Homo sapiens: one gene and its partner. The protein of the gene in region 1 interacts with the protein of each later gene in a biochemical or structural test. Each region holds a gene or a part of one and is shown on either strand. Other genes may lie near its edges. The genes, in order: RGS19 and OSTM1.

Evidence for each region.
Region 2: the proteins of RGS19 (region 1) and OSTM1 form a complex in vitro, tested with the Homo sapiens proteins (one study listed by BioGRID).

The regions. Positions count from the first base shown.
Region 1 is NC_000020.11:64,072,390-64,076,518, reverse strand, and holds the end of RGS19 (regulator of G-protein signaling 19), read left to right. Parts: intron 1-1,977; coding exon 1,978-2,052; intron 2,053-2,140; coding exon 2,141-2,375; intron 2,376-2,474; coding exon 2,475-2,666; 3' UTR 2,667-3,338; downstream 3,339-4,129. UniProt on the Homo sapiens protein: Inhibits signal transduction by increasing the GTPase activity of G protein alpha subunits thereby driving them into their inactive GDP-bound form. Binds to G-alpha subfamily 1 members, with the order G(i)a3 > G(i)a1 > G(o)a >> G(z)a/G(i)a2.
Region 2 is NC_000006.12:108,064,715-108,072,005, forward strand, and holds part of OSTM1 (osteopetrosis-associated transmembrane protein 1 precursor), read right to left. Parts: intron 1-7,291. UniProt on the Homo sapiens protein: Required for osteoclast and melanocyte maturation and function.

The DNA of each region.
Region 1 (4,129 bases):
AGGGCCTGGGGTGCCCAGCTGGCGAGGGGGTCGAGGGCATGGGGCCAAGCAGACCCAGGAGGGGACCCAGTGGTGGCTTCCGAGGCATCCCCGCAGGCAGGATGCCCCTGCCACCTCACAGCACTGTCCTGTCCAGGGTCTGTTGGGCCCTGGTGATGAGTGGCCGGTGCCTTGGCCCCAGGGAGCTCATGTATGGCTCTCGTACCTGTCTTGCCAAGGGTGTGTCCGTGTGCTGTGTACATGCATGTGCCCGTTCACGCGGCATGTGCTTTATCCATGCTGCTGTGAGCCAGCCCAGGCTAGGCCCTGGGGGCCTGCGGTGGAGTAAGACAGGCACAGGCCAGGTGCAGTGGCTCATGCCTGTAGTCCCAGCACTTTGGGAGGGCAAGGTGGGCGGATCACCTGAGGTCGGGAGTTCGAGATCAGCCTGACCAATGTGCAGAAACCCTGTCTCTACTAAAAATACAAAATTAGCCAGGCGTGGTGGCGCATGCCTGTAATCCCAGCTACTCGGGAGGCTGAGGCAGGAGAATGGCTTGAACCTGGGAGGCGGAGGTTGCGTTGAGCCGAGATCGCGTCATTGCACTCCAGCCTGGGCAACAAGAGCAAAACTCCGTCTCAAAAAAAAAAAAAGAAAGAAAGAAAGAAAGACAGGCACAGACCCCATACAGTGTGTGGGGTGGAGGGACGTTTGAACAGAGACCCCAATAAGGGAACTGCTGGCCCTGGGGCGATGGCCAAGAGCTTCCCGGACAGCATGCGTGGGGGAAGAAGAGCAGGGGGCGGTGGCGGGGACGTCTCTGGGCATCCCTGTGAGGGTGGGAGTGGGGCTCCCAGATGGTAACAGATTTCCTAGGAGTGTAGGGGAGCTGGTGGATGTTTTCACACCTTGCAGAAGCCTGGCCCTATTCAGGCTTCAGGCCCTGGCTGATGAGAGGACAGCGCTTCTGGATCCAAGGTGGCGTCAGCTGACCCACGGGCAAGCTGGGGGTGGCCAGGGGGCAGTCGGGAAAGGGGGTGGGAGGAGCCCAGGGGCCTAGTTCTGTCAGGACGTTTGGGTGCACGATGTCTGCCAGCCATCCAAGTGCCCTGGAGAGAGGTCAGCCGGGTATGGATTTGGGTCCAGCACTGACAGGATGCTAGGAGCCAAGGCAAAGAAGCTGCTTCCCTTGAGACAACCGGGGATCAGGCTCCAGAACCTGAAGGAGTGTGGACACGGGTTTGGGGCTCTCACCTGCGTCAGCCGACGAGAGACACTGCTGACACGCCAGACCTGCAGCGTGTGACCCCATCGGTGGGACAGGGACAGGCCAAGATCAGGCCCAGGAGCAGGGTGGCCCTGTTCCCAGGCACATTCCCATGGGTGGCCCTGTTCCCAGGCACATTCCCATGGGTGGCCCTGTTCCCAGGCACATTCCCATGGGTGGCCCTGTTCCCAGGCACATGACCCTTCTGGCCTCCCAGGTGTTCAGGGATCTCCCAGCTCCTTGTGGCCCCTCATCTTGCCCCACCCCATCTCCCCCAGGGGAGCAGAGGCAGAAGGGGAGGTGGCATACCTGCTTCTCAACCTCATGTGGGGTGGGCATGGGTGGGTGGAGGAGGTTGCCCAGTGGGCCAGGGATGGGGAGGAGCACACCAGGAGCCGAAGGGCCCCTCCTGGAAGGCCAGAGACTCGCGGGCACTGGGTCACACTGCTGGAATGGAAGACGGCAGAGTCTGTGGTCTGGGCACTGTGGCAGGGACAGTAACCTGGACTGCAGATTCTGTGGGGAATTTGGGAGTGTGGGAGAGTGTGGGAAGAGCCAGCTCCAGGGGCTGCCCTCCTGCAGTGGGTGCCCATGTGTGTCAGGTGCCTGCAGGGGCTGCCCTCCTGCAGTGGGTGCCCATGTGTGTCAGGTGCCTGCCCATGTGCTGAGGGCCTGTGTGGCCGTGGAGGCGTGTGTGCCCACGGCAGCGCTGCTTCCTCTCTGCCACTAGGAACCAAGAGCGGCGGCGCGCGTGGCAGGCCTCCCGGGAGAGCAAGCTGCAGCCCCTCCCCAGCTGTGAAGTATGGTGAGTCCAGCCGGCTGGTGTGTGCGTGCTGGGGGGGCCCCAGACCGGGAGACTCGGGCCTGACATAGCCTGGCCCCCGTGCCCACAGTGCCACGCCAAGTCCTGAGGAGGTGCAGAGCTGGGCGCAGTCTTTTGACAAGCTGATGCACAGCCCAGCGGGACGCAGCGTGTTCCGGGCGTTCCTGCGGACAGAGTACAGCGAGGAGAACATGCTCTTCTGGTTGGCCTGCGAGGAGCTGAAGGCCGAGGCCAACCAGCATGTGGTAGACGAGAAGGCGAGGCTCATCTACGAGGACTACGTATCCATCCTGTCCCCCAAGGAGGTGCGCCAGACACCAGAACAGGCCGGGGGCCGCCTGCTCCAGGCACTAGGTGGGGAAGGCAGCTCCCGCACCCCCTGACCTCAGTGTCTTGTCCTGCAGGTGAGCCTGGACTCCCGTGTGCGGGAGGGCATCAACAAGAAGATGCAGGAGCCGTCCGCACACACGTTCGACGACGCGCAGCTGCAGATCTACACGCTCATGCACCGGGACTCCTACCCCCGCTTCCTCAGCTCTCCCACCTACCGTGCCCTGCTGCTGCAGGGGCCATCACAGTCCTCCTCCGAGGCCTAGGCCGCCCCCAGCAGCACAGACCCCGCCGCCTCCTACGGCCGACTCTGGGTTCCCTTCAGGTGTTGTTGTCGGCAGGGCTGTCAGGGCACATGCCTGGCCGGCTGGGGTCCCCACCCGCGGAGACGGTCCTAGACCCAGTGGGGAGTGCTGTGTCTCCTGGGTCTGCCCACCCGTGGCCAAGCAGGAACTCCAGGTGCAGGGCGGGCCTCCAGGTGCAGGGCGGGCCAGAAGCCCCCTCATCGGCCCGCAGCTGGCTGGCCCAGTGCTCCTGGCTGGGGGCTCTTGCGTGGTGAGAGTAGGGGTCCCCCCAGGAGCCATGCTGGACCCATGAGCCTCGCTGGGGCCTCCTCCCCAGGCAGCCAATGGGCCCCAGACAAGCCTTTGGTGGGGAACAGAACCTCCGCATCGTGTAGTTTTGTGACATAAGGAGACCTCCTACTTGAGCTGTCTGTACCCCAGAATCAAACACAGAACCTCAGAACCAGATTTAGGACCTCAGAATCCTGCACTCAAGGTGGCAGGACCCAATTTCTGTTTTATATGTTCATGAACTTTAAACCTGGAAACATGTCCTTACTAGGTGTTTTATCAAAAAAAAGTTTTCATATTTATCTCTATCCCTAACCCCCCAAAAATAGGATGTCTTATTATTGAAGATATTTTTAAAGCAAAGTCTCTACTCATTTTTGTCCAAGTCTGGGGAGAGACTGGAGAATGAGTGGCCCCAGACTCAGGGCTGGGGAGAAGTGTCCTTGTCCCAGGGCAGGGGCTCCAGTGCCCCTTGGAGGGGACACACAGCCGTGTGCTTGCCCTCTTCCCATGCCCTGGCCTCCACCAGACCCCTCCTCAGAACAGTGGTCCCAGTGGGTGGCTGTGCTTAACCCTGCCCGGGGCATGAGCTCCACGCCCTCGGCCTCAGCCTCCTTAGCTGAAAGTCGGGCCAGAACAGTGACCCACAGCACCTCAGAAGTCGAGAGGCAACAGGAGGTGCCGCCCAGGCCCAGCCGGACGGGGTCCCCAGAGGCAGGCTGGCTGGGGCAGGAGGGGCCACTTGGTGCCAGGCCCAATGTCATCTTTCTCATCTCACAGGCCCCATGAGTTGAGTGCTCACCAGCCCATCCCCTGCATTTCTGGGAAGTTAAGTGAGTTGAAGCTGAAATTGGCTCAGGGCCCTGAGACCACAACTCCCACAAGAACAGAGAAGGCAGCATGGGGACAAGCTGTCCTGAAGTGCCGAGAGGTCCCGAGCTGCCCATGCCTGAGGCGTTGGGGAGGACACTGCCCTGCACAGGACGCACACAAGACCCTCTCCCCACCTGCCCTCACAGGCAGAGCCGCCCCAGGTGATCTCTGAAGGTCAGCCAAGCTCCTCTCCTGGGGCTGACCCACCAGGGCCAAACCCAAGCACTGCCCAACCCCAGGGAGGGGCCTTGTCCACAGCAGTGGAAACGGGTCAAACATGG
Region 2 (7,291 bases), on another chromosome or scaffold:
CTATTTACTAGGCACTATAAAAATCCTGAAGTTCTGAGGATATAAAAAGTATAAAAGAATGCCATCAATTCTGGGGCTTTGAGAACCTCTCGCAGTTACACAGACAAGGAGTTATACAGTGTGATGAATAATAAAAGAGTGGTAACTCCTGGGAAACAAATGGTCAGTCATGTGGGAGAAGAAATGGAAAAAAGGAGAAAAGAGGGAGAAAAGGAAGAATTTCTGCTTTAAAATATAAAATCCAAGCGATTCTCATGCCACAGCCTCCCAGGTAGCTGGGACTACAGGCACATGCCACCACACCCAGCTAATTTTTGTGTTTGTAGTAGAGACGGGGTTTCACTATGTTGGCCAGGCTGATCTTGAACTCCTGAACTCAAATGATCCATCCACCTCGGCCTCCCAAAGTGCTGGGATTATAGGCATGAGCCACTGCACCTGGCCATGAACAGAACATTTTAAAACTCTTTTTTAGAATTACCTTCTGAGCAATACCAGCCATAGAAGAAAATTTTCTATTATCACTTTTTTTTTTTTTTTTTTGAGATGGAGTCTCACTCTATCGCCCAGGCTGGAGTGCAGTGACGCAATCTCAGCTCACTGCAACATCTGCCTCCTGGGTTCAAGCGATCCTCCTGCCTTAGCCGCCCGAGCAGCTGGGACTACAGGCACATGCCACCATGCTTGGCTAATTTTTATTTTTAGTACAGACGGGGTTTCACCATGTTGGCCTGACTGGTCTCGAACTCCTGACCTCAGACGATCCACCTGCCTCGGCCTCCCAAAGTGCTGGGATTACAGGCATGAGCCACCATGCCTGGCCTATTATCACTTCTTAAGTAGAAGTAATAATATTGTATTAATACAAGCCTGGGTCACTAGCTAGTGACCTTGGGCAGCTGACCCAACCTCGCTAAGGTTCAGTTTCAAAATCAGGGGTCCTACAGTTACTGTATTAAATGAAATAGCATACATTAATCACTCAGCACACTGTCTGGCACACAGTGACTGATATATGCTATTTCACCTAGCTACCATGCTGCCAACCTGAAGTGCTCTAAGTAGGTTTAGTTGGATAAGTGTCATTAGTTGGTTAAGTTGAATCTTCATAAGTGGGTGACTGGCTATTTTAAAAATCAATACAGTAGAGCCTGTATGAGTGTTCAATGTGTGGAACAGTTCGGTTCAGGAAGATATCAATGTAGTTTTGAGAAATTAGGAAAGAGTTCATGAAGGAAGCAGGATATGAACTAAGCCCTATATTGAGGAAGAGAAGAGGATTCGAAAATAGAAGAATTAAATGATCATGGGGTGAAAGTGATAATGATTATGTGGTATTCGGAGAGTATTCAGTAGTCTATGAAAGTAGGGCTATTAAAGGGCTAAGTTAGAACAAGGTTATGAGAGGCCGTGAGGGTCATGAGAGTTAGCCAGTGAGAAATTCTTTAAGATTTATGAGGAGGGTGTCATGAAAAGCAGTTTGAGGAATACATCTTTAGGCCGTGATATGTAGGGTGAGGAGGCAGGGAGACTCATTACACTACTTCCATAGATCAGGTATAATGAAAGGATGATGGCAACAGTGAGGACAGAAAGGAAATGATTAATAATCCAAACGATGATGAGGTACTTACTACTTACCAGTTCCAAATGTTCCAACTTCCTTATTTAATCCTCATAACAACTCTATGAAATAGGTAGTGTTAGCTGGGTAGAGGGTAAACTATCAGAGGTGACTGAGAAGGAAGAATTGGAGAGATAAAGAAAAATAAGGAGAGCATGATGTCCTGTAAATCAAGGAAAAGGGAAGGGGTGGTTATTTGTGTCAAATCCTGCTGAGAGAACTGGAGGTACATCTGTCAACACTGGCAGTATTGGTGACACTAACAAGAATGAATTTGATGGAGTCCTTGAGTGTGAAAGTGAGATCAGAGTGGGTTGAACAGGGAATGGAAGATGAGGACATGGGAAGAGTGAACCTAGACAACTGCTGAAGAGTTTGGCCTTGATGGGGAGATAAGAAAGAGAGGTCACTAAAGAGCAATGTGGGACCCATGCGTCATTACCCTGATGCATGGTTTCTTAAAGCATGATATCCACCTATATATGTTTAGGTTTCTCTTCTGGACAGATGTCCCTTTAAAATGGAAACTGTCACATCTTTGTATTCCCAACACCTCGCCAAGTGACCAAAAAATCAATGGTCCTTGCTTATACTTAGAACTCTTAATACTCAAATCTATCCTAACTACTTAGCAGAACCCTAACCATCTTGAAGCCAGCCATTTCCTTTGATCATGCCTGCACCCAGGAAGTCAGGAGCTGCTGGCAAAAAATTAACAACACAGATTAATTCCAAAGTAAATCCATAATCCCAAACCGTACTCCTCACTTTTCTGTCTGCTCATTCTCTCCTTTTTACAACCGCTATTTCAAATCCTCTCCACTCTCCCAGAAACTCTGATCTCTCTCCCACTCTTTACTCTCAAAAGAAGATCTAGCCTCCTGGATAACAGAAGCCTTCGAGCTGAAACTCTAACCTGCCTACCCCTACATGCAACCTCTCCTTCTACCCTCCCATTAAGGTGGGGAAGGCACCTGTCCTTTTCAAGGCCCATCTCTCTGAGGATGCCCTAGATCCCATCTATCCTGCCTTTTCTGGAAACTGACCTTGTCTGCTTCCCACTCCCTCCTACAGAATCTTCACTTTCTCTAAAGGACCCTTACTATCAACATTTAAACATGTCCAGCTCTCTCCCATCTTGGACAAGGAAGAAGGGAAGGCAGGACAGAGGAATGGAGGGACAGGGGAATGGAAAGAAATGATAGAAAGTCAGCCTGGCACCGTGGCTCACGCCTGTATCCCAATACTTTGGGAGGCCGAGGCAGGCAGATCACCTAAGGTCAGGAGTTCGAGACCAGTCCAGCCAACCTGGTGAAACCCCATCTCTACTAAAAGTATAAAATTAGCTGGGTGTGGTGGTGCACACCCATAGTCCCAGCTACTCAGGAGGCTGAGGCTGGAGAATCGCTTGAACCTGGGATGGTGGAGGTTGCAGTGAGCCGAGATTGTGCCATGCACTCCAGCTTGGTTGACAGAGCGAGCCTCTGTCTAAAAAAAAAAAAAAAAAAAAAAATAGAGAAAGAGAAATGAAAGAAAGTCTCTGAGTCCCACATTGCTCTTTAGTGACTTCTCTTTCTTATCTCCCCATCAAGGCCAAACTCTTCAGCAGTTGTCTAGGTTCACTCTTCCCATGTCCTCATCTTCCAATCCCTGTTCAACCCACTCTGATCTCACTTTCGTACCCAAGGACTCCATCAAATTCACTCTTGTTAGTGTCACCAATACTGCCAGTGTTGACAGATATATCTCCAATTCTCTCAGCAGGATTTGACACAAATAACCACCCCTTCCCTTTTCCTTGATTTACAGGGCATCATGCTCTCCTCATTCTTCTTTATCTCTCCAATTCTTCCTTCTCAGTCACCTTTGAGAGTTTACCCTCTATTTAATCTTAAACTCTTAGTGTTCCTACTCATTCTTCAGGTATGTTCACCCATGTCATAATTTCAAATGCCATTTTTATGCCGACACTCCCAAAGGTGTTATCTCTAGTCCAGTCCTCTAGATGTGTATATTCAACCACATAGGCAATCAATATATCCACTTAGAAAGCTCATAAACACCTCAAAATCAACACGTTCAAAACTGAGTTAATGATCTTCGCCCACTAAACAGACTCCTCCCTCCAGCTCAGTAAATGACAACCCTATTCATTAAGCTGCTCTTATTAAAACCCTGGAAATCATCACTACCTTTTCCTTACTCCCCACATTCAATTAACCTCCAAGCCTGTAATTTCTGCCTCCTAAGTATCTCTGAAATCCACCCATTTCTCCACATCATGATGGCCCCCACATAGCCTAGACACCACTGTCTCTCACACCACTGCAACAGTCTCCTAATTCATCTCCCCACATATCTTCTTCCCCTACCCTCCCCAGCCCCTACCCTCTCCATTTTCTGTCACATAGCCAGCATAGCCTTTTAAAGTACAAATCTGATTATGTCATTCCACAGAATTAAACCTTTCACTAACGTCATACTGCTTTAAAATCAAAGTCTAAAATCCTTAACATACCCTACAAGGCCCACATGACCTGGCACCTGTGTACTTCCTTAGGCTCAGACCACGGGTTTCCTTCTTGCTCACTGTGCTGTGTTCTAGACCTCAGATACACCACAAACTCCTTCCCATCTCAGTCTTCATGCCTGCTATTTCTTTACATGTATACCTTCCCTCCCCTGCCTGTGTTCTCTCAAATTGTAGGTGTCTGCTTTAATCACTGACCATTCTACCTACCCCCCAGTCATACTCAAGATCAGCACTCTTGTCATATGCATTGGTAGCATCTGGGTTTTTTAATCAGCAACACTTATCACACATGAATTAAATAATTATTTGTATAATGAGATGCTTAATGTCTGTCTTCAGACTACAAGCTCTGCTCATTCATGCTATATCCCTAGTAGCTACCACAACCTGTACATAATAGGTACTCAATAATTTTTTTGAATGAATGCAGAAGAAATATTACATTTTCTGATCTCTAATGAAAGACACAGATTATTACACTATGTTCTGGCTTTCTCCCTATAGTCCTCAGAATTCATTATTTAATAATCTACAGTAAAAGTATATTGAATACTCACCAAATACATAACCCAAATGACTAGCACTTCACAAAGATACACAGATACATAGATAGATAGAGATAGATAGGTAGATGGATGGATCTATAGATCTAAATTTTAAACACTATCTAAATTTTAAACAAACCAAGTAGAATAGGACAGAGCCTACCAATTCAGAATCTGAGGGGGCAAAAGCATCCTCAGGACCATTCCGATAATGCTGAATCACAATGAAACTATGTCCCTATCAGTTTAAACTAAAAGGAGAAAGTATGACTCTAAGGAAGAGGGAATCCCTCAGTTCTATCATTCAGGTTTCAGAAATCACTGTATTTTTCACCTTGAGATAATGAAACTATATGCGATCCCTCTCCCAGAAATTCTAAAAGGAAGTGACAAGAACCTAGGATTCTTATCAGGGAATTCTATTATAGTTAAACTAATTATATTGCTGTACCACATAAATAGCTTACTAGTTTCTGGCTTTGATTCTTTTTTTCTCCTTATTATACTCCTCTCCTCTCTCAATCAATCCATGTCCATTCACACTAAAGAAGGGTAGAAAGAATGCCTTGAGATTCAGCTTGTAGGTTTCCCCTGATGAACCAGCCTTGCTCTGTTCCGTCATTTTTTTTTTCTTTTTTTGAGATGGAGTCTTGCTCTGTCACCCAGGCTGGAGTGCAGTGGTGCAAACTTGGTTCACTGAAACCTCAGCCTCCCAGGCTCAAGTGATTCTCCCACCTCAGCCTCCTGAGTAGCTGGGATTACAGGCACATGCCACTACTCCTGGCTAATTTTTTATATTTTTAGTAGAGACGGGGTTTTGCCATGTTGGCTAGGCTGGTCTCAAACTCCTGGCCTCAAGCGATCCACCTGCCTCGGCTTCCCAAAGTGCTGGGATTACAGGCATGAGCCACTGCATCTGGCTCTGTTCCCTCCTTTAACTTGGCATTCCTTTCACTCTTTTGTTCTAAATTGCTATGGTACAATTTATAACACTCACTGATATTTTCCTATTTCCCCATATAAGGTATTTTATTTCCCCTAACTATACTGATAGTTTGAGGCCTGAATCTTACCCTTCTTTTCCTTCTTATCCTTTTACCAGCCCAATATTCAAGAATAGTAGGTGCTTGCTAAAAACTGATTTCAATAAAAGACTGAGTCTGAGTCAAACAAAATACATTACACTGGATAGGCTGGGCGTGGTGGCTCACGCCTGTAATCCCAGCACTCTGGGAGGCCGAGCCGGGTGGACCACCTGAGGTCAGGAGTTTGAGACCAGCCTGGCCAACATAGTGAAACCCTGTCTCTACTAAAAATACAAAAATTAGCCAGGCGTGGTGGTGGGCGCCTGTAATCCCAGCTACTTGGGAGGCTGAGGCAGGAGAATCGCTTGAACCTGGGAGGCGAAGGTTGCAGTGAGCCGAGATCCCGCCATTGCACTCCAGCCTGGGTAACAAGAGGGAAACTCCGTCTCAAAAAAAAAAAAAAAGGGCTGGGTGTGGTGGCTCACACCTGTAATCCCAGCACTTTGGGAGGTCGAGGTGTGCAGATCACGAGGTCAGGAGATTGAGACCATCCTGGCTAACACGGTGAAACCCCGTCTTTACTAAAAATATAAAAAATCAGCCGGGCGTGGTGGCGGGCGCCTGTAGTCCCAGCTGCTTGGGAGGCTAAGGCAGGAGAATGGCATGAACCTGGGAGGTGGAGCTTGCAGTGAGCTGAGATTATGCCACTGCACTCCAGCCTGGGCAACAGAGCAAGACTCTGTCTCAAAAAAAAAAGAAAAAGAAAAGAAAATATACTACACTGGATAAATAAACCTCCCCAAGAGACAACTAATTCCTTCAAGTTCACTCATGACACATTTTTCCATAGGTTTTTGTTTTGTTTTGTTTTGGTTTTTTTTTGCAACGGAGTCTTACTCTGTCCCCCAGGTTGGAGAGTGGTGGCACTATCTTGGCTCACTGCAACCTCCACCTCCCGGGTTCAAGCAATTCTCCTGCCTCAGCCTCCTGAGTAGCTGCGCACCACCACACCCGGCTAATTTTTTTTTTTTTTTTTTTTTTTTGTATTTTTAGTAGAGGCAGGGTTTCACCATGTTGGCCAGGCTGGTCTCGAACTCCTGGCCTCAGGTGATCTGCCTGCCTTGGCCTCCCAAAGTGCTGGGATTACAGACACGAGCCACCACACCTGGCCTCATAAGTTCATTATTATACATGATGGTTCAACTCCCAAACCAGTCCATATAGCCTTTTAAATCTATAAAGTACCTCAGAACTGTAGATGTCACACTTTTGAGCTAATGAATCATATCCAGCTCTACTGGGGAAATAAGGCGAGCCGAGACCAAGGCCTAGGATGAGTTGGAGAGAAAATACAAAAAAAGTTTCCCTGCCTCTTTTCACCTGTTTATCCACTTCCTTTCACATCAGGGTGAGTTGAGCTGGGTACCCAGGTTGCTGGTAGAATCTGAGGGAAAGGAAGGGGGTTTCTACAACTCCCCCACTGGGAAGCCTCCTTTGGGTAGTGGGGAATTCATATGGAAATTCACATGCAGATTGGGTGATGCCCATAATACTGCACCCTAGA